Regions from separate parts of the Homo sapiens genome. Here region 1 is linked to region 2. The links come from fine-mapping of genetic effects on gene expression. A gene starts in region 2. The other region holds a variant in brackets. All regions are shown on one strand. Distances are between the middles of the regions.

Region 1 (10,120 bases), 250 kb after region 2:
TGTCTTGTCTCGCCTTTCTTCTTGCTATTAGTGTTCAAGAGTCTAAGTACCAAAGAGGAAAGGCACCTTAAAATGAATATATAAATGGTATTTTAATAACTTCTGTGTGCCAGGTACTGTTAGAACTGTTAGAGGCTGAAAAAATATGTATACTTATATTTATATATATTACATAGAAATTAAGAGGTATGTGTATCATTTAATCCTCACAACAATCATAATATATAAACATTATTATAATATATTTTATTATTCCTCATTTTCTGATGAGGAAATGTAGGAGAGAAAGGTGATGTTTCTTATCCATACCAGGCTAGAAAGTGACAGAGACAGGAAGCAACTCCACAGAGCCAGGTTTCAGAACCCATGGTCTCAGAGCTAATCTATGCTGTGCCACCATTTAGGCTTTCGACAGTGGACCTTCACCACCTCTCCTAAGAGTGCCAGCTTTGTGTAGTTGGCAGCGTCACTTCCCAAATGCCCCCACCTGTCCTTTCCTCCATCCCTCCATTCCACATCCTTCAGCCATCCGGTAGTCCTCACTGAGTGTCTACTCTTGCCAGGCTGCCTGCTAGGCACTGGGGATATGAGGGAAACTAGACCAACAGTGTTCCTGCTTAGCCCTCATGAGCTATGTGTTCTCCAGGCCAACCATGACAGACTCCAGTCACGAGTCCTTCTTCAAACATCGCCCCTTAGACTTCTCTTCCTTAAGCAGAACATTATCAGTTCTAAGAACATTTCTGTTGTTACTAAGGGAATGCTGGAGTTAAAGTAGTTTTCTGTACCCTGAAGGCACTCACAGAATATGCACAATCTGTGGGAGAAATTAATAGAAATTAATAAACACAATCTGTGGGAGAAATTAATAGAAATTAATATGCACAATCTGTGGGAGAAATTAATAGAAATTAATATGCACAATCTGTGGGAGAAATTAAATCTATGATTACATGAATAGCCAGATCTTCATCCTGAGGATGTCCGAAGTTAAGGGTAGGGATTTTTTAAAGTGTTCTATGGAACAATTTGCCTGGTTTAGGAAGTCCCCCTACACATTGTTTTATCATTTTCATAAGGTGGAAATTTCACACATTCATCACTTGAGTTTTTATTTTCTTTAAAATGTAATCTTTATGATAGAATTGAGTTATATAGTACAATAAAAATGACAGTGAAACATCAGTCTGTGGTCTGTCCTCTGACATCAGTCAAGTTCACGTTCATCTCTCCATTTGTCTTATAGGACTTCATTCAGTACATTACTGTGAAGCACCAGTGGAGACGTGGAAATAGGATATAAGAGACTGTGAGAAGGATGATTATAATGTTCTAGAAATAGTTCAAGTCCCTAGGTCACTTCTGAGGCCCTTATTGTTCTGCCCAGTCTTTACCCTTTGACCTTATCTCCACCTTTGACCTTAACTCTTGCCCTTGCCCACAGATACCCTTCACTCCAGCTGTGCAGAATTCGTTGCACTTCTTCAGGTGGGGCATGTTGTTGTTGTTGTTGTTGTTGAGATGGAGTCTCGCTCTGTCACCCAGGCTGGAGTGCAAAGGCACAATCTCAGCTCACTGCAACCTCCGCCTCCCGGGTTGAAGCAATTCTCCTGCCTCAGCCTCCCGAGTCGCTGGGATTACAGGCAAGTGCCACCACACCAAGCTAATTTTTTAAAAAATTTTTAGTAGAGACAGAGTTTCATTGTGTTAGCCAGGATGGTCTCAATCTCCTGACCTCGTGATCCTCCTGCCTTGGCCTCCCAAAGTGTTGGGATTACAGGCATGAGCCACGGCACCCACCTGGGACATGTTTTATCCCTCCAAACTTTGTTCAGCTGCTCCCTCTTGCCTCAAGGCCCAGCCCTTCACCTAACCTATTTCTAAGTTATCCTTCTACACTCAGCTCAAGTCTTCACTGACCCCAAGTACAATCTAGATACTTCTTTTCTATGTCCCCTTAGCAGCCCATGTTTAATTCTATTTTAGCAATTCTCATGCTGCCTTACAGACCCACTCCACTATTCAGTGAGATTCCTGACATGAAGGACCTCATGCTGATCATTTCTTTCTTTTGTTTTTTTTTTTTTTTGAATATTTGAGGTAAAAATTGTATTACATGTGTAGTAAGTGTTCATAGTAATTTAGGTCTCATAAAACCCTGCCTCCCCCTACGGTATCCTCTTACTCAGATGATAAAACTTGAATGCAACTCCGTGTTCTGTCACAGACAATTGAAATCTGAGGATTCAAAAGAACACCCTTGCCTATTTCTGAGCAAGCACAGTCACTGCCTGTTCATTTCTGTATTTCCAGTTCCTGCTTCATAACAGATGCTCAACAGATGTTTATTGATTATGAAAAGGATCCCTGAAAAGCTTTCTCCTGGAATTAGACTCTCAGCCCTAGAATAGAGCAAGCCTGCAGAAACGAGAACTGGAGGCTTGAAAGTCCTCCATAACTGGGTTGAAGAGAAACCATTTTCCTGTAATCTTTTTTTTTTTTTTTTTTTGAGATGGAGTCTTGCTCTGCCGCACAGGCTGGAGTGCCATGGCCTGATCTTGGCTCACTGCAAGCTCCACCTCCTGGGTTCACGCCATTCTCCTGCCTCAGCCTCCTGAGTAGCTGGGACCACAGGTGCCCACCACAACGCCCTGCTAATTTTTTGTATTTTTAGTAGAGACAGGATTTCACCGCGTTAGCCAGGATGGTCTCGATCTCCTGACCTCGTGATCCGCCCGCCTCGGTCTCCCAAAGTGCTGGGATTACAGGTGTGAGCCACCGCACCTGGCCCTTTTCCTGTAATCTTAACATCAGAAAGCACAACTGTTCCCTCTTAGAACTCCTAGGCATTCTATTCCAGGCATTCATCTCTTCCTGCCTTCTAACATGCAAATGTATGCATGAGCCCTCATGGTCCTCAGGTTGAAATGTCCTTAGGTTGACTATCAGTGTGTTGCACACACCCAGGACAGGGATTGTCCCTAAGAAATATTCCCCAGGTTTCTATAACTTCACAACAAACTCAAGCACATTACCTGATTATATCCCTTTATTCCTTCTTTTCCTTACCCATTGTGCACCTATCTTACCACTCTATTCTGCTTTTTACTAAATGCTAGTTTTGATCATCTTCTCATTTTAGAATAGTTTTAGATTTTCAGAAAAGTTATGAAGGTAATGCAGAGGGTCCTCATATACCCCACATCCAGCTTCCCCTATTATTAACATTTCACATTAAAATGGTATATTTGTCACAAGCAACGAACCAATATTGATATAGTATTATAAACTAAGTCCCATACTTTATTCAGGTTTGCTTAGGAGGGGTGCGTGTGTGCGTGTGTGTATGTGTACTCTTTTTTCTGTTCCAGGATCCCATATAGGATACCATATTACGTTTTGGCTCCTCTTGGATGTGACAGTTTCTTAGACTCTTTTGTTTGTTTGTTTTGGATGACTTGAAATTTTAAGGAGTATGGACCAGGTATTTTGTAGAATTTGTCTGTTGTTTTCTCAGGAGTGGGGTTTCGGCAGAGGAAGACCATAGAGGTAAAATGTAATTCTCATTGCATCATATCAAAGATGTATACTATCAATACGACTTATCACTGATGATGTTAGCCATGGCCACCTGGCCGTGGTATGGTTGTCGGGCTTCTCCACTGTAAAGGTACTCCCCCACTCCTCTCCATAATACCTTTTTTTTTTTTTTTTTTTTTTTGAGACGGAGTTTCACTCTTGTTGCCCAGGCTGGAGTGCAATGGCATAATCTCGGCTCACCGCAACCTCCGCCTCCCGGGTTCAAGCAATTCTCCTGCCTCAGCCTCCCTAGTAGCTGGGATTATAGGCATGTGCCACCATGCCTGGCTAATTTTGTATTTTTAGTAGAGACAGGATTTCTCCATGTTGGTCAGGTTGGTCTCAAACTCCTGACCTCAGTTGATCCGCCTGCCTCGGCCTCCCAAAGTGCTGGGATTACAGGCATGAGCCACCGCGCCTGGCTACCATAATGCACTCTTGAGAAGGGAGTTACTATATGCAGCACACACTTATGGAGTGGAGAGTTATGATCCACTTCCTTGAGAGTAGAATACATAAATTATTTGGGATTCATATTCATGTAAGTACAGATTCATGAATATTTATTTTACATTTTGGTTTATAATCCAATACTACTTTATGTATTTTGTTTGCTCAAGTTGTTTCAAATTTGACCATTGGGAGCTCTTTCCATTGGTTCCCATTCCCCCTTTGACATGTTCCTATCAATGGGTTTCGGTTTTTGTTGAGCATGTCCTCACTTTCAGGTACTAAGAGATGTTCCAGGTTCATATGGTATATTTCCTATCCCGGTCCTGGATCAGCCATTTCTCTAAGGATCCTTGTTTTTCAGTTTATTTGTTTCCATTTCTGGGAATGGCATTAGAAACCAAGATGTGGGTATTATAGATGCAATCTCTGTTTTTAATAGTTAAAACTTCTGTAACAGTTGTTAATTTTTCACAGACTACTTTTTCCCCCAATTTTAAAAGGGAACTTTGCCTTTTCTGGGCCAAACTCCCACTCAGTTTCATGTAGAACCTGGAAGGATGGGTGGTCCCCACTTAGTAGACTTCTGGCCACATCTATTTTTGGTTAGGATGTGCTGTTGCAATTCAGAGATTTCAATTCTAATTACATGGATAGTTTCTAACATATGTGGATGTTGGGTAATATGAGGCCAACTGTTATTAACGTTTCTGTGTTCTGTCTTTTTGATCGTTCTAAAAGTAGGAAGTTACCATTTTGTAATCAGAGGGAGTCATATTTGTAGAATTCTAAGCCCTTTATCTTCTGAAGCACTAATGTCTTTTTCTATTAATCTCTTTTG[G/T]CTTCTGTGGTCCTGACCCTGGCAATTAATTTCACTGCAGATGCATGAGCCAGGTACACACAGACACAAACTGTAGTATCAACTATATAGAGAAAGATGTTAGCCTGAGAGCTGTGCAGCTACCTGAAAATCAGAGGTGAAATGAAGGAGAACAGTCTACATTTTAAAATCCCTAACAATTGTTTATACCAACTTACTGTTTCAGAGATACCCCTGGTTTAAAACTGTTTTGGATAATCATTTAGAAGAGGTTTTCTCTTTCCAGTTCATACAAGCTGTAATACATCATGCAAACGCTATTCCCAAAGTGATTATAAGCATGTTTTACATCAAATCTGTAAGTTTTTCTGTAATAAAGATTTTCTTAGGCTACTGCTGAGGGCTTTTTGAATTCCTAGCTTGGGCTGTTTGCAAAGCTTATTCCAACACTGTCTCAGAGCACTGTTGAGGTCATACCTTCAGGGTAATTTAAATGGAACGAATAGGAAGGTCATAATCTGAATCCAATCAACAGTCTGGTGGGAGGCCAGTGACTGTTCTGAAACATGGCATTGAGAGCCCAGATAAAATGTGTTGATTTCTGGTCTGCTTTCTGTTATACCCCAGCCCTGTAAACACCAGGCAAATAAACCTCAAGCACAACAAACTTGAGGCAAAACAGACAAAATTAATTTTATATGGCTATTTATTTAAAGGCAATTCTGTGTGCAAGAGATCTGTCTAAACATGCTTAAGGAAGTAAATCACATTTGTGGGGCATCTTGACCTCCCTTTCTAGCTGGAGACAGTTTCATAGGAACTAGCCTTTTAGTACTTGGTGATGTGTTTTTTAAGGAAAAAACCAAGTTTAAGGGTTGACTGTGTCTTTTAATAGAACATAAATATTTTGTCAGTTTTTATTATTTTCAAAAGGAGGGAGATCACATTTTCAAGCAAGGGAGTTTTGTTTGTCTTCAATCTGATTTTTAATATGCTTAGATAGGGACATTTCTAGGTGACTAAAAGGAAAAGAAGAAATCTATGCCAGGCTTAAGAAGTATATCAATATATATTGATACATATTTGTTTTGGAAGCTATAGGGCCTTGGACAAAATTACTGTAAAGTTTCTATAATTATGAAGTCATTTTATCTATTTGCATCCTAACAAAGGTATACTGTCATCAAAAGCTCAGTGGACATATAAGTGGATGAAAACAAAGTCATTGTGGCAAGCACAGTTTGTGAGAGATGCTGTCATGCTGTAGAAGAAACATTACCCTTAGATTGAAAAGTTTTCTGTCCTTATCCATCCATGTTCTTGCTTTTTGGCCTTAGCTCACCACTTCACCTCTTTCAATCTGTTTCCTTCTTTGTAAAATAAAAGCTTGTCTCCTAAGAGCTCTAAAAAGTCTATCATATGTGTTACGGTTGTTGAGAAACAACCTAAACATGTTATTGAATGAGTCCAGCTGCTCACCTAAGTGTAGTCCCACAGAGTCTTAATGCTCAAGTTTGAAGTCAAGAAACTCTGTTTCTGTTTTCTGTTTTGACACCATAATTAGAGAGGTTGATGGAGCTGGGGGCTCAACCAATACTCTCCAGGCTCAATAGAGAAAAAAGGATAAACCACATGCCAGCATATGAATTCACAGTGAGAAAAATAAACACTAAGGGCACTGGGATGCAAAGATGTTCTGGCCAGTGCACTCTCTTAGTATTGAAATCTCAGGGGAACTCCAGATTACAGTAAGAAAACTGAGCAATGATTATGGACCTTGAGCCAAGTCTTGAGATAGTCTTCAGAAGACTTCCTCCAGTTCATGATGAAGCCTGGTGGCTCCTCTCTAACTCAGAGACAAAAGGCTTTCTCTTTTTATCAGACATTTATTTTTTCTCTCTCTATTTCTCTCCTGGACAGTCAATGCTTAGTGACAATAACAGGATTTTTTGTTTGTTTGTTTTAGACAACATAAAGTCTAAAACTAGAGAGAAGGCATAAATAGACCTGTTCACAGGCTTTTCTCAGCCCTACTACAATGTCATTGAGTAGGTTTCAATGTTTTGATTACTAACATATTCTAGTCTTGCCCACCTGAATTGCTCCTCACTTGCTTTGGATGGCTGACCTTGAGTGTTCCCCTCTCCTCAGTTCAAACATTTATAGACAAGTTCCTTTGTTACTTCACCAGATGGCGTCCCATATATCATATACGGGATTTATTAATACTAGTTTAAGAAGATAGCCTTATTCAAAATCCTTGTGGAAACCTATTGACTTGATAATCAAGTTGGAAAAATATCCATAAGGACTCACTGATTGGGATTGATAAAAGAAAAATGTCAATGAGAGACAGACCAGATTCTCTGAGGTGACAGTTATCATACTTTAGTCCTGGGGTCCATGTTAAAAATGCAGGTTCCCCTGTCAGCCACTGAGATTCTAGTTCAGTAAAAATTTTGTATTCCCAGATGATTTTATATTAGTGGCTGACAAAATCCCTTTCTTCTAAGATTTCTTATTTGCAAAATCAGCTTGGATTTTGATTCATTTCTTTAGGAAACAATTTCATGTTTTAGGAAAAAAAAAAGCCTCCAAATAGAGGCAGGCTTAAGTTCATGGCTTAGAAGTACCTTAGCACCAAAAGCTCAAGTACTGAGTGGTCCCTGCCAAAGTTTTAGAAAGAGCCATACAGAGGTACAACCCACTTCATAGCCATACTTGATGGCTACTGTCAGCTTTATACAATCTCTGCGTGTTTAAATCTATTCTATTAAAATTAAATTTGAGGAGAAAGGACTCTCCACCACCCTCCTTTCAGTTCTATTCTTTCTTTCCTATTCATCACTCCTTTCTTTCCTATTCATTACTGTATCCTTAACGCTCAGCAAAGTGAGTAGCATATGGTAATGATTCAAATATTTGTTGAATGAACAAGGGAAAAGTGAAAATGAAAATGAAACTACACAGATACTATGCAACCAGGAAGCTGAATTCCTTCACCAACACCAGCAAGTTCAACCAATGCTCTACACAAAGGAAACTTTTATTCTCCTCTCACATTCTGTCCTTCTGTCAAGACTCAGAATGTCTTGTTTGTGCCGATCTCATAGGGTATATTATCGAGGCTAGAGCGGGGAGGGAAGTTCTATGCAGAGAACAGGGACTTTGGGGAAAGAATCTGGGAATTTCAGAAGTAAAAGCTTCTCTGTGAAAGATCAGGCAGTTGTCCCTGAACAATGAATGTACACAGGGCTGATTACAAAAGTGACACTTAAGAAAAAAAAAAAAAGACTCTCTTAACAGTGTGGTGACAAATCCTCAAAATAAGAGCTTTGTTTATTTAAGGGCCTGGGAAACACTGAAAATATTGAGTTTTTAGCTAATGATGAACTGCAAATGCAAAGCATTGTGAATTACTCTACTGTCAATCTTAGGTTAATTTTATACTGCTGCAGTACTTGCTAAGTTAACTAGAGCAGTGGTTATTAATCTACCTGCACATTAAAAATCTCTGAAATGCTTTCAGCAATTCTGGTAATCAGATCATACTTCAGACCAATTAAAACCCACTATCCAGTCAGTGAGATTCAGACATTTGTATTTATTAAAGCTCCCAGATAACTCTAATGTGTAGCTGGTAATGAGAATCACAGTTCTATAGGCAAAGGCCTAATTCAGATATCTTCCTAGATTAAATGGGAGTAAGCTATATGTCCAAAGAAGACACGATTATTAGAATGAATGGCCCTTGGAAGGTTTACGCTGGCCTTGCTCTTGGCTATTTCAGATTCTTCCACCATGCCAACAAGGCCTACTTTCCTTTAAATGTTTCTTTCTATGTTTCAAAGCAAATTCAAATACTTTCTTTGCACTCTTCATGAGACAGTTTTCCAAAAATACATTCCTCTTGTTTACTTAAATGGTTCCTTTAATTTCACCTTCACTATAGAATCTACTAGAAAATCTGGAGGAGGGATGGTTATGTTTCTTTTTTTTTTTTTTAACTTTAAAGCAAAGAATTTTAATTTGAAAGTTGAGAAAATATAGCAGAGAAAACTAGTCATTTGGAATGTTATGAGAGAATTTGAAAAAAATATTATAAATGTTTTAAGATAGATGTGGTTGAACATTTAGAATTGGGAATCATTTTCTGATAGTTTGGGACCTAGTTTTCTGTGCTTAAATTTTAATTCAGTACTACTTACTCCATGGTCTTCTGGTGGTGTGCAACTTGAGGAATCAAATAAGCCAAGGTTTTTACAACCCTTCTCTAGGTCATTAAAGCATTTCTGCTATGTGCCTCAATATGTCTTTGATTTCATGCATAAGAAATATTAGATGCTCCATTCTCCTTCTTTAGAAGAAATAGTAACTGAATATGTTGGATTCTTCTCTATTTTTGTTGTTTCTCTTAGATTTTTAACCACACTTGCTCAAGACTAAGTTTTGTATTTTAAGTTTAAATGAGTAAAGTAAAAGGCTGGGAGCGGAGTGTGTGGTGATGCTGCTTCTTTTTCCCTTGAGAACTGAAGGCAAAAAAATTAAATTTATTATAAAAATTTGTTTTTGTCTTTTTTAATGTTTGTTTCCTTTTTCTTTCTTTTTTTTATGCTTTAAGTTTTAGGGTACTTGTGCACAATGTGCAGGTTAGTTACATATGTATACATGTGCCATGTTGGTGTGCTGCACCCATTAACTCGTCATTTAGCATTAGGTATATCTCCTAATGCTATCCCTCCCCCCTCCCCCCACCCCACAACAGGCCCCAGAGTGTGATGTTCCCCTTCCTGTGTCCATATGTTCTCATTATTCAATTCCCACCTATGAGTAAGAACATGCGGTGTTTGGTTTTTTGTCCTTGCGACAGTTTGCTGAGAATGATGGTTTCCAGCTTCATCCATGTCCCTACAAAGGACATGAACTCATTATTTTTTATGGCTGCATAGTATTCCATGGTGTATATGTGCCACATTTTCTTAACCCAGTCTATCATTGTTGGACATTTGGGTTGGTTCCAAGTCTTTGCTATTGTGAATAGTGCCGCAATAAACATACATGTGCATGTGTCTTTATAGCAGCATGATTTATAATCCTTTTGTTTCTTGTGCAGGAAAGACACTACATTTATCTTTCTCCTTGTTTCAATACTGTGAGCATATACATGTTAAAAGAGCTTTCTGTGTTTCTCATCACAATGTCCTTTCCTCAAAGCATGAGACTAAACCTGGTTTCCTGGAAATCTTGTGGGGTGCAGATTCTTGGATTGCA
Region 2 (9,972 bases):
CATTAAAGGAAAAAGGTTAAATTAATTTTAATATATTTTATTTAAACTAGTATACCTAAAATATTATCATTTCAACACACAATCAATATAAAAATTGAGACAGTTTACTTTTGTTTTTGTTTTTGTTTGAGACGGAGTCTCACTCTTTCACCCAGGCTGGAGTGCAATGGCGCAATCTTGGCTCACTGCAACCTCCGCCTCCCGGGTTCAAGAGACTTTCCTGCCTCAGCCTCCCAAGTAGCTGGGATTACAGGCACCCACCACCATGCCTGCCTAATTTTTGCATTTTTAATAGAGACGGGGTTTCACCGTGTTCCCCAGGCTGGTCTCGAATTCCTGAGCTCAGGCAATCCACCCGCCTCGGCCTCCTAAAGTGCTTGGATTACAGGCATGAGCCACCACACCTGGCCAAGACAGTTTACTTTTTGGGGGGAATACTAGGTCTTAAAAATCTGGGGTGCGTTGTACATTTACAGTACATCTCAATATGAAATAGCCACATTTCAAGTGCTCAATAGGCACATGTGGCTAGTGGCTACTGTATTGGACAGTTCAGTTGTAGGTGCACTAACTGGAATTTGGGACATCAAATACAAATCGTTGTCAGCATTCAGCTACTTAATTTACTTTTGATATTCTCCTTCTATCGGCTTCCTTACTTTCTCCAAAAGACATTATCTCAAAGCCCACATGCTGTGTTAGCAAGTAGTTGTGGGCTTTGGAGTGAAATAGACTAAGGGATTCAAATACCAGCTTCATAACCTTGGACTAGCTCCATAACCTTGGACTAGCTCCTTAACCTTGATGACTCTTGGTTTCTTCAACTGTAAAATAAAAACAAAAATAGCTAACTCACCAGATCATTGGGAAGATAAACAGAGTATACAGCACAGCTTAGAATAGTACAGTAGGCATTCAAATAATAATTCCCCCTATATACAAGTCAACTTCTAAAGGGCCCATCTTCAGACTTTAAGCTTTACTGCTTCATTTACTCCAATTTAAGAACTTTCTCTTGAGAGTTCTGCTAAGGTAGCCCTTTCCCTAGACTTTCACAGGGCTGGCTCCCTTTTTGAAAATGCGGGTTTAAGTTCAAGGGTATCCTTTGTATGGCAGTCTTCTCTGACTTCCCTGTTGAAAGTTGCTCCCACGCCCTGTCCCTCTGTAGCCTTCAGCCTCTATTTTCTTCATAGCATTTATCAGTATCTGAAATGATTTTATTTATGTATTTGTTCACCCGACTGTTTTCTGTCACTCTCTCTGGCATAGAAGCTCCACAAGGGCTGGGATCCTGTGTGTCTCATTCCCCACTGTGTCATCAAGTGCCCAGCACAAAACAGAGCTCAGCAAATGCTTGTCGAATAAATGAATGAAAACGTGCTCAGCACAGGGAGGTAAAGGTAAGTGGTGTTCTGATTCTAAAGGTGGTAGAGAATGAACATTCCAGAGCTCTGTTTAACTAAAAGGATTACCAAGGAAGTCAGTGACAGAGCGCCAGCCTCACCTGCTAATGTTGGATATTGCCAATCTTGAGTCTAATGGCTGGGCTTGGGAAGGGTCAGGAATATTATCCTCCCATAGGTGATCTTGTTGTTGCTACCCGTTAATATGTATCACAAGCCAAGCACATGTTCACACCACTTAAAAGCACCCACTAGATTTGGCTATTCCTGCCTTTTAGAAGAATCTTAATCCGGTTGGCTGATGCAAGTGCCTGATATTGGGGAGCTTGGGAGCACTGGGTAGTGGAAAAAGAGTGGGTGCCAAAGTCAGACAGACCTGGGCTTGGATCCTGGTTCTGCCTTTCCTGAGCTAGGCGGATGTGGGGTGTGGGGTTGGGGGGTGTATGTACATTTCCATGTTTCAGTTTCTTTACTGGTAAAGCTTTAAATGATAACTCATACTCTGCAATCTTGCTATGAGAATTAATTGAGGCAATGTGTGAAAGTGCTTAGCACATCTTAAAGGCTCAGTAAATAGTAGGCATGAATATTGCTATCTTTGCATGCAGGAATACCTCACCAAAGTATACTGATAGATCTTTGGCTACTCTGTGGATATCCAATTTCCTTTTAAGTTTCCGATGTTTCCTTCTTTCATTGCTACATCATCTGACCACTTGCAATGGAGGCACCAGGACCCCATGGAGAGAGAGTACATGCTGAGTTGGCTACATCTGTGCCAAACTGTGAAAGATGACAATGGAGATATTTCTCTCTACAGTTTCTGAAGATGGACCCAGCCACAACACTTCTTTCCATGCCTGGCTGTTTTTAGCTGCAGGCACAGCACTAGCTGTTTTGTACTCAAGATTATGGGTCAAAAGAGAACTGAGAGACAGGTCAAGTATCCACGCCGGTCTGGACATACTTTACTTGCCGGCAATACATAGTGCTCTCCTTGACACTGCACAATTCGAACAGCCAGTCTGACTCTGTATTCTGAGGCCACCACTCCTTTTTGTGCATAACTAGACCAGAACTAATTTTACTCATTCTTCTACTAATGTAAGCCCCATAGGAGAGAGAGAGTAAGCTGTTCTTAAAAGCATGAGACTATTGAACACTTATTTATGGTGCCACATTAATATTAAGAAAAAGTTTATCATTGACTATGGGCTAGGCATGATTCATAGTATTTCCATTCTCCCAACAACCATGCAAAAAAAAAAAAAAAAAAAAAGCAGCATTATTTTCATTGTGCTGACAGGAAAAGTGAAGCTCAGGAAAACTCAGAGGCTTGCTCAGTGTGGGAGTCAAGATCTGAAGCCCAGTCTGTTGAGCTCCAAAGCCCTGTGTGTTTTCTGATGTGCCTTGCTGGCACTGCTAGTGGAACACCCAGGGTCCCCAGAGATGTGAGTCCTTAGTCCTCTAAAGGCAAAGTACAGAGGTTCAAAAGAATATGGCTGCCTACTCATACTATGCCTCAGGGAGCAAAGACTGCTTCATTTCCAAACAAAGCCTTGGCCTCCCTGCCATCCAGCTAGGTGACCTGAAGAGCACTCTGATTCAGACAGCGATCCTCTTTAGATGGCTCTCCAGGGTTGGTGGGACTGAAAATTCTAGGGGTAAGGACTGTCGCCTTAGGAGAGTCATTAAAAAGGGTTGTGAGGAGGGGTCCCCTGGAGTCAGAGGCTGGTAGAGCTCTGGAGAGAGCATGTGGGGAGCTCACCCATGACAGGGGAGCTGTCTCCTTCAGCAGCGTGGCTGACTCCAGACCCCCAAGAAGGCTGTGGATTACTCCCACAGTCAGCCCAACCAGCAGCAAGGAGTTGGCTGGGTGGTCTTGATACAGGAGGAGGAATAAGGGATTGTCACCTGGGATTCAGGCATGGCTTTCAGGGAGTATCCACAAACCCTCAGGGATTGCATGTAAAATTTTATGTACATGCCATATGCATTTTGCCCCAGGAAGAGGACTCACAGCTAATTCTCAAAAGGACCTATCACCCCTAATTTTTAAGAACCACTGAAATTAATATTTTCATCTGCTCCTCTCTTGCACTATTCAGCACTTCCACCTCATTAAACATTTATATATATATTATATATATTTCTATAATATATATATATAATTAATTAATTCCCTAAACTTTGCAGAAAAAAAATCGAAGCCCAGAGAGGGTAAGTATCTTGCCCAAGTTTGCACAGCTGATGGTCAGGATTGGGATTAGCAGCACTTCCCTGGTCAAGTGAAGCACGATTTCAGGTGGGAAATCTTGCCCGGTCAACTTGACAAATGAAGACAAAGTGATCCCTCCAGACTAATAATAATGTTTTGCAACCATTTTCAAGTCCAGTCATAGAATCCCCTACGTTGCTTGTTTTCAGGGCAGTGTGGGTTGCTTCCCCAGGATACAGGTAGAGGTCACTAAAAGGATAGTTTTCTACTCAAAGAGCCAGAACTCCAGCCCTTGCCTTCCCCTGCCGTAGCACTCGGGCCGGCCCTCCAGTTACCTGAGTTTGCCTGACTTTAACCAACTCCTCTTCCCTTCCCTCCTCCCTTCTCCAGCGGGCTCTCCTTCCAGCTTCCTCCCGGGCTGCAATTCCTCTGCCTAGGTGCCTCCGTCCAGCTCCGGCTTCTGGCCCGGAGGCTGCTCATCTGCCCCTACCCCCGCTGACTTTTGGGAGGAGCAACACCTTTCAGGTCAGCATTGCTAACCCTAAACTTTCCCCGCCGGATGCCCGCGAGGCTGCTGCGGCGGCGGCTGCTGCTGATGGGAGAGTCTCGAGTCCGGCTTTCATCACATCACCTGTCTGCGCCCCTTCCCCCTCCCCGCTCTTTTTTTCTTTTCTTTTTATTTTGACGCAAATAATTTGCATTCTGAGAATCCCACAATCAACGCCGAAACTCATGCTCAAGGATACAGGTGAAGATGCCTTTGACAAAGGCGAATGCGAGCCGAGTGCAGTTTGTAAAAGCTGGGGTTGGGGGCAGTGGTGGAGGCAAAGCACCTTAAGAGTATTTTTTAGCCCCTCTGAGAAGGGACATCCGGGCGGGAGGCGGGCGGATCCCGGGCTTCCCCGCCGGCTGCCGACTCTGGCTCCTGGCTGGCGTTCTCTCCAGGAGCCCGCGCCGGTGGCCCCGCTCTCCCCTTCAGCACGCGGGCCTCGAACCCGCATCCCGGAGAGCGGCCGCCCGCGCAGCCCCTGCCGCGCGCCGTCGGAGGCGGCCTCAGCTCGCCATGGGTACTCACTTTTGCCAGGGAGCAAAGTCTGCCACATCAGTCGATGAGTACTTCCTGCACGAGGACATGAAGCTCCATTGTGTGGAAAGCTGTTTCGCGAACGGTCGGTAAAATCCAGAAAGAGGGAGAAGGAGTGAGTAAGGCAGAAAGCCCAGCCCAGAAAACCGGCGTCTGGGGATTTCAGCCTCCGCTCCCCGGTCCCCAGCCCGGTGGCTCTGTGAGAAGAAGCTCAACTCGGTGCACTTGTTCACTCTTTCTTCATGAGAGGAGGAGTCAGTGTTGCAACATTTATGTTCCTTGCTGGAGGCAAAACAGTGATTTTCTTCAGCATGCAAAACGTCCAGAGCCTGCCAGTTTTAGAAGGCGACGGAGGTAGTTGGGGGAGCTGGAATCCTGCGAAGACCTGAAGAAACAACTGATTCCCCCCAGATCGGTTTTGCATGATTAGGGCCACATATCTTTCATTGAGACTGTACCAGAAAATAGACAGACAAAACAATAATAAAAATGACTTAGTGAGTTGAATGACCTCAAAGATGATATTTTTCCAGGCAGCCAAGATGTGGAGTGTCTCCGTGTCAAATTTCTTTCCTTATTTCTGAGTAACATTGAACAGCAGCTATATTTGAGAGGTTCTCCAGGGATTTGAATTGCACCTTGCCTGAGGAGTCAGATAGAAAGGAGCAAAAGAAGATAGTCAGTGACCTAAGAAGGTTTTGCTTTTTTTTTTTTTTAATACCCAAAGCGCAAACTTCTAGTGTGCTGTGTTTATTCTCTGCCATATGAATATAATAAACATTGGCGGTGCCTAAATAGCCCCACTTCTGTTGTTTTCCACAAATAAAGAATTTATCTTTTCTAATGGGCTGCATGTTGTTCTGACTTTTCTTCTTCTTGAAACCACACACAACCGCCTTTTCTCTTGCAAAAACAAAAACCCCACATTTAACAGTGCTGAAACAAATAATAGCACCTGCCTGAATCAAATAGTTATTTCTGACTATGTATGTTGCTGGTGTCATTTGATGCCATAATAATTAATGCATCCGATTGTTACACAACCCAGAGGGCCACCAAGGAAATACTTTAAACCAAGGTTACTGAGTTTTTTTTTTTGTTTGTTTTTGTTTGTTTTTTTGAGACAGAGTCTCGCTCTGTCGCTCAGGCTGGATTGCAGTGACCCCATCTCGGCTCACTGGAACCTCTGCCTCCTGGATTCAAGCAATTGTCCTGCTTCAGCCTCCCGAGTAGGTGGGACTACAGGCGCGTGCCACCATGTCCGGCTAGTTTTTTGTATTTTTAGTAGAGATGAGGTTTCACCCTGTTAGCCAGGATGGTCTTGATTTCCTGACCTCATGATCCACCCACCTTGGCCTCCTGAAGTGCTGGGATTACAGGCGTGAGCCACTGCGCCTGGCCGTTTTTTTTTTTGTTTTGTTTTAAGTTATTGAAACATGAGGCTTTCCCCTTTGATTTGACTGCTACTCTGGATAACTGGGAAATCACAGTTAGCAGTGAGCATTTGCCAAGCCACAGGAAGCCATTGAAAATCCCATGATGCTTTGGTGATCCTTTTGGACTGGAATCCCAGAAGCAACTACCTAGGCATAATAACCTAATACTTCCTGATCAATAACACGTCCTTATTAAAACATAGACTCCACCTGGTTCTGTTAGCTGATGGGAGATGCATCTTTCACGTGCAGACCGCACATGCTTCCTGTGATGATTAGGGTATATTTACTTTCATTCATGGGTGTCCATGAAGGTACGCAACTTCTATTTATTTTCAGAACCACTGGGCGACATGAGATCCTCAGTGGCAGAATATTTCTATATGACCTTTGCAAAGCAAAGGGTCACTCAATTCTACAATAGTTGTTCTAATCAGACTATTTTAACAGTTAGTGAAATAGAAGATCACTCTGGGTAACTCCAGACTGTCAGCTCTTAGAAGGCAGGGACTTGGCTTTTCCTCCTTGTGGTTCCCACTCAGCTGCAGGCAGCTTGGCTCGTCTGTACTCCTGGCTTACAGACTGGTCGTTGCGTGGCTAATCCATACCTCACTGGTAAGAAGGGCAGGGCTGGCTTTCTGCTCTGTTGTGTAGCACACAGGCACTGTCACAAAGCCACGGGTACTCATTGTCAGTGAGTTACCTTGCCCCAGCTTTCCTGAGATGATGAAATCCGCAGTGAGCCACTATATTTTCCTTTTCTGCCCCACAGTGGTTCTTTGACTATCTCCTTCTCTCTATGCACTGATGTGCTCCAGCTTCACAGCTTCTTTACTGATGTCCTCCTCTAGTTCATTTCTGCATCTCTGTCTTAGCGGACGTGTTCGTCCTTTGCAAGCTGACTCCCTACCTGAGTCCTGGACTCCATATCCGTTTACTTCCTCCAAGACCTTGCTTCTCAGCCTGATGCAGAGGAAGAGCCCAGCACTGGCACTGGGTTAGGTCCTTGCTATTCTTGGTTTCTCACTGTAAATTGGACACAGTAGCATGTGCCTCAAAAATCCAGTCAAATGAATAATAATGGTGATGGCATATGTAAAATGTGTGCCATCTAACAAAGTCTAGAAACATCAAGTTCCTTTCTTTCCTTCCCCTTTCCTCTACCTTTCTTGCATATTTAATCTTTTCTGCCCCATAGGCTTCTTTATCTCAACCTACAACTTCTACATCTTCTTTGACCCTTTTGATGGCTTTACAGTTTAATTCACTCATTTCTTTACCTGCCAATCTTAGTGAAAGAATGACTTACGCACACCAGCTTTCCTTACTTACTTCCCTCTCAGTGCCTTAACTCACTGGTTCTCAACCTTGGCTGTGAACAAGAATCACCTGAGTGTTTAAAATGTACTGTGTCTGGGTGTCACTTGCAGAGCTTCTAATGCAGGAGGTTTAGAATGGGGCTCTGACTTCTCTGTTTTTACAAAAATGCACAGGCAGGGTGGAAAATGGCTCCCTTGAATTCTTTGCACCTGGCTTTCATCACTACCACTCACTGGCTGCTCTCTGGGAGGGCCCTCCAGGCCTCTCTGCAGCACTGGGCTTCGGTTCACTTCCTCCTCTTGAAGTTCTCACGCCTTGGCTTCCAGGCCTCTGCCATCCTCTGGCGGGAGCCTCCCCTCTGTCTGTGGCATTCCTCTGTTGGTTTCTGCCGTGGCTCCTTTTCTCTCTCCTCCTTCTCAAATAGGGAAGGAGTTTTATCATTGCTACTTCATTTGTCTTCTTTGAGAACCACATTTCTTTTTTTTTTTTTTTTTTTTTGGTTTTAAGGAGTGGAGAGGTTAATAGGCAAGAAGGGTCAAGAAGGAAAGGGAGAAGGAAGAAAGAAGAAGCTTCCCTGTACAGAGACAGAGGGAGGGGGGCGCTCCAAAGCCAAAAGAGTAAGTCCCCACTTGCTGCGGATACCAGCCAGGTATATAAGCAGAGGCTGGAGGAGGCGGTGTTTGATTTGCCTAGGGCTCAGGGGATTGGTTTGACTAGGCACGTAATTCACGTAGCCCATGAAAGAGCTGGCCCTCCCACTCTAGCCTTTTAATATGCAAATGCGGGGCGCCATGATGTTCTACACAAATAGGGATATGTGGGGGCGGCCATGTTGCCAGGAACATGTGGGGCAAGGGCAAGAAGGTCCCTGGAATCGGCATGTTTGGGTGAACCCAGTTTCTAATGGCCTAGGTTTGCATATCAAAGGTTGCCCGCCTGGCTCTAAAAGCCGGGGTTTTACAAGAAACTTTTCTGGAGATACTTTAAAAAATGAAAACTTCCCAAGGACCCCTTTTACTCTCTATCTGCCTAAAATAATTTCTTGATAACTCATGCCACATTCCTCCCTGTGGCGATATCACACTAACTGCTGTTAGGGGGTTTTGGGCAAGGACTCTTTCTGGCTACTTCCTGCTGAAAAGGGGCCTCTAATGGGGAACAGCAGCTAGGGCTCCTCCTGGGGTCAACTTAAGCATCCTCAGAAGAATGGCATGTCCATATGTGGGAGAACTATGTTTCTTTCTTTAGAAAAAAAATAGAAAACTGCTAAAAATATCCAAAGATTAAAAAACTACCCCAAATCCTAGCACTGTTAAAAAGAAATCTACATCTTTATCTATACAGTAAAATATAGTACTTCCAAATCACACATCCTCCTTCCTTCATCTAATCCTGTCTCAGAGGTAACCACCATTGACGTATTGGTGGTTGCCTCCTTTTTTACATGTGTATATAGTCATGTCTCTGTATGCACATGCAAATATTTTAAAAATTCAAAATGCAATAATTTCTGTGACTTTTCTTTTTTAAACTTAATGAAATCACATATTCCAGGTAACTATGTATAGATTTACTCCATTTTTTTTTAATGGTTACATAGTTTGTAATATATTCTACCATTCTTCCATTGTTAGGTCTTTAGTAATTCCAGCTTTTTATTTTAAGAAGTGCTGCTAGGATTGTCTTTGCATGGACTTTAGGATAGATACTTAGAATGGCCTGATTGGCAGGCAGGTTGGCTCGCGTCTGCCTGTAATCCCAACACTTTGGAAGGCCAAGGCAGGCAGATCACCTGAGGTCAGGAGTTCCACACCAGCTTGCCCAACATGGTGAAACCCTCTCTCTACTAAAAATACAAAAATTAGCCAGGAGTGGTGGTGCACGCCTGTAGTCCCAGCTGCTAGGGAGGCTGAGGCCAGAGGATCGCTTGAACCTGGGAGGCAGAGGTTGCAGGGAGCCGAGATAGTGCCATGGCACTCCAGCATGGGCAACAGATTGAGACTGTGTCTCAAAAAAATAAATAGATAAATAAATAAATAAATAAAATAAAAAATAAATGACTTGGTTGGCTCAAAGAGAATGAACATTAAAATTTTGATAGCTACCAAATTGCTCTCCAAATATGTTGTTGGAGAAAGCCCTAGAAATGAGATTACTGAGCCACAGGGTAGGAACATTTTAAATTTTCATATATACCTCCAATTTTTATCCACAAATGTTTCAGTGTCCACTCTTACCAAGGATGTTTACTCACATTTTTGCTAGCACTGGACTTTATCAATCTTATCTTGCTAGTCTGATAAGCAAAATATGATAGCTCATTGTTGTTCTAATTCACAGTGTTCTGATTGCCTTCAAGGTTGAGTTCATGTGCTTATTATATTTTGACTTTTTCTCTTATGTTGTGGCTGTTCAATCTTATGCCTGTTTTTCTTTTGAGATGGAGTCTTGCACTGTCACCTGGGCTGGAGTGCAGTGGCATGATCTCGGTTCACTGCAATCTCCACTTTC

What was found.
Region 1: its variant is fine-mapped to the expression of PRLR in whole blood (TOPMed, PIP above 0.99).

Annotation. Positions count from the first base shown.
Region 1 is chr5:35,471,498-35,481,617 of GRCh38, forward strand. No RefSeq gene overlaps it. Among named protein-coding and RNA genes, the nearest start is that of SPEF2, 140 kb to the right of the region's middle. The variant G/T (reference allele first, on the strand shown) is at 4,871.
Region 2 is chr5:35,225,572-35,235,543 of GRCh38, forward strand. PRLR (prolactin receptor) reads right to left here and starts at 4,916. Exons shown (of 10, transcript NM_000949.7): 1 at 4,697-4,916.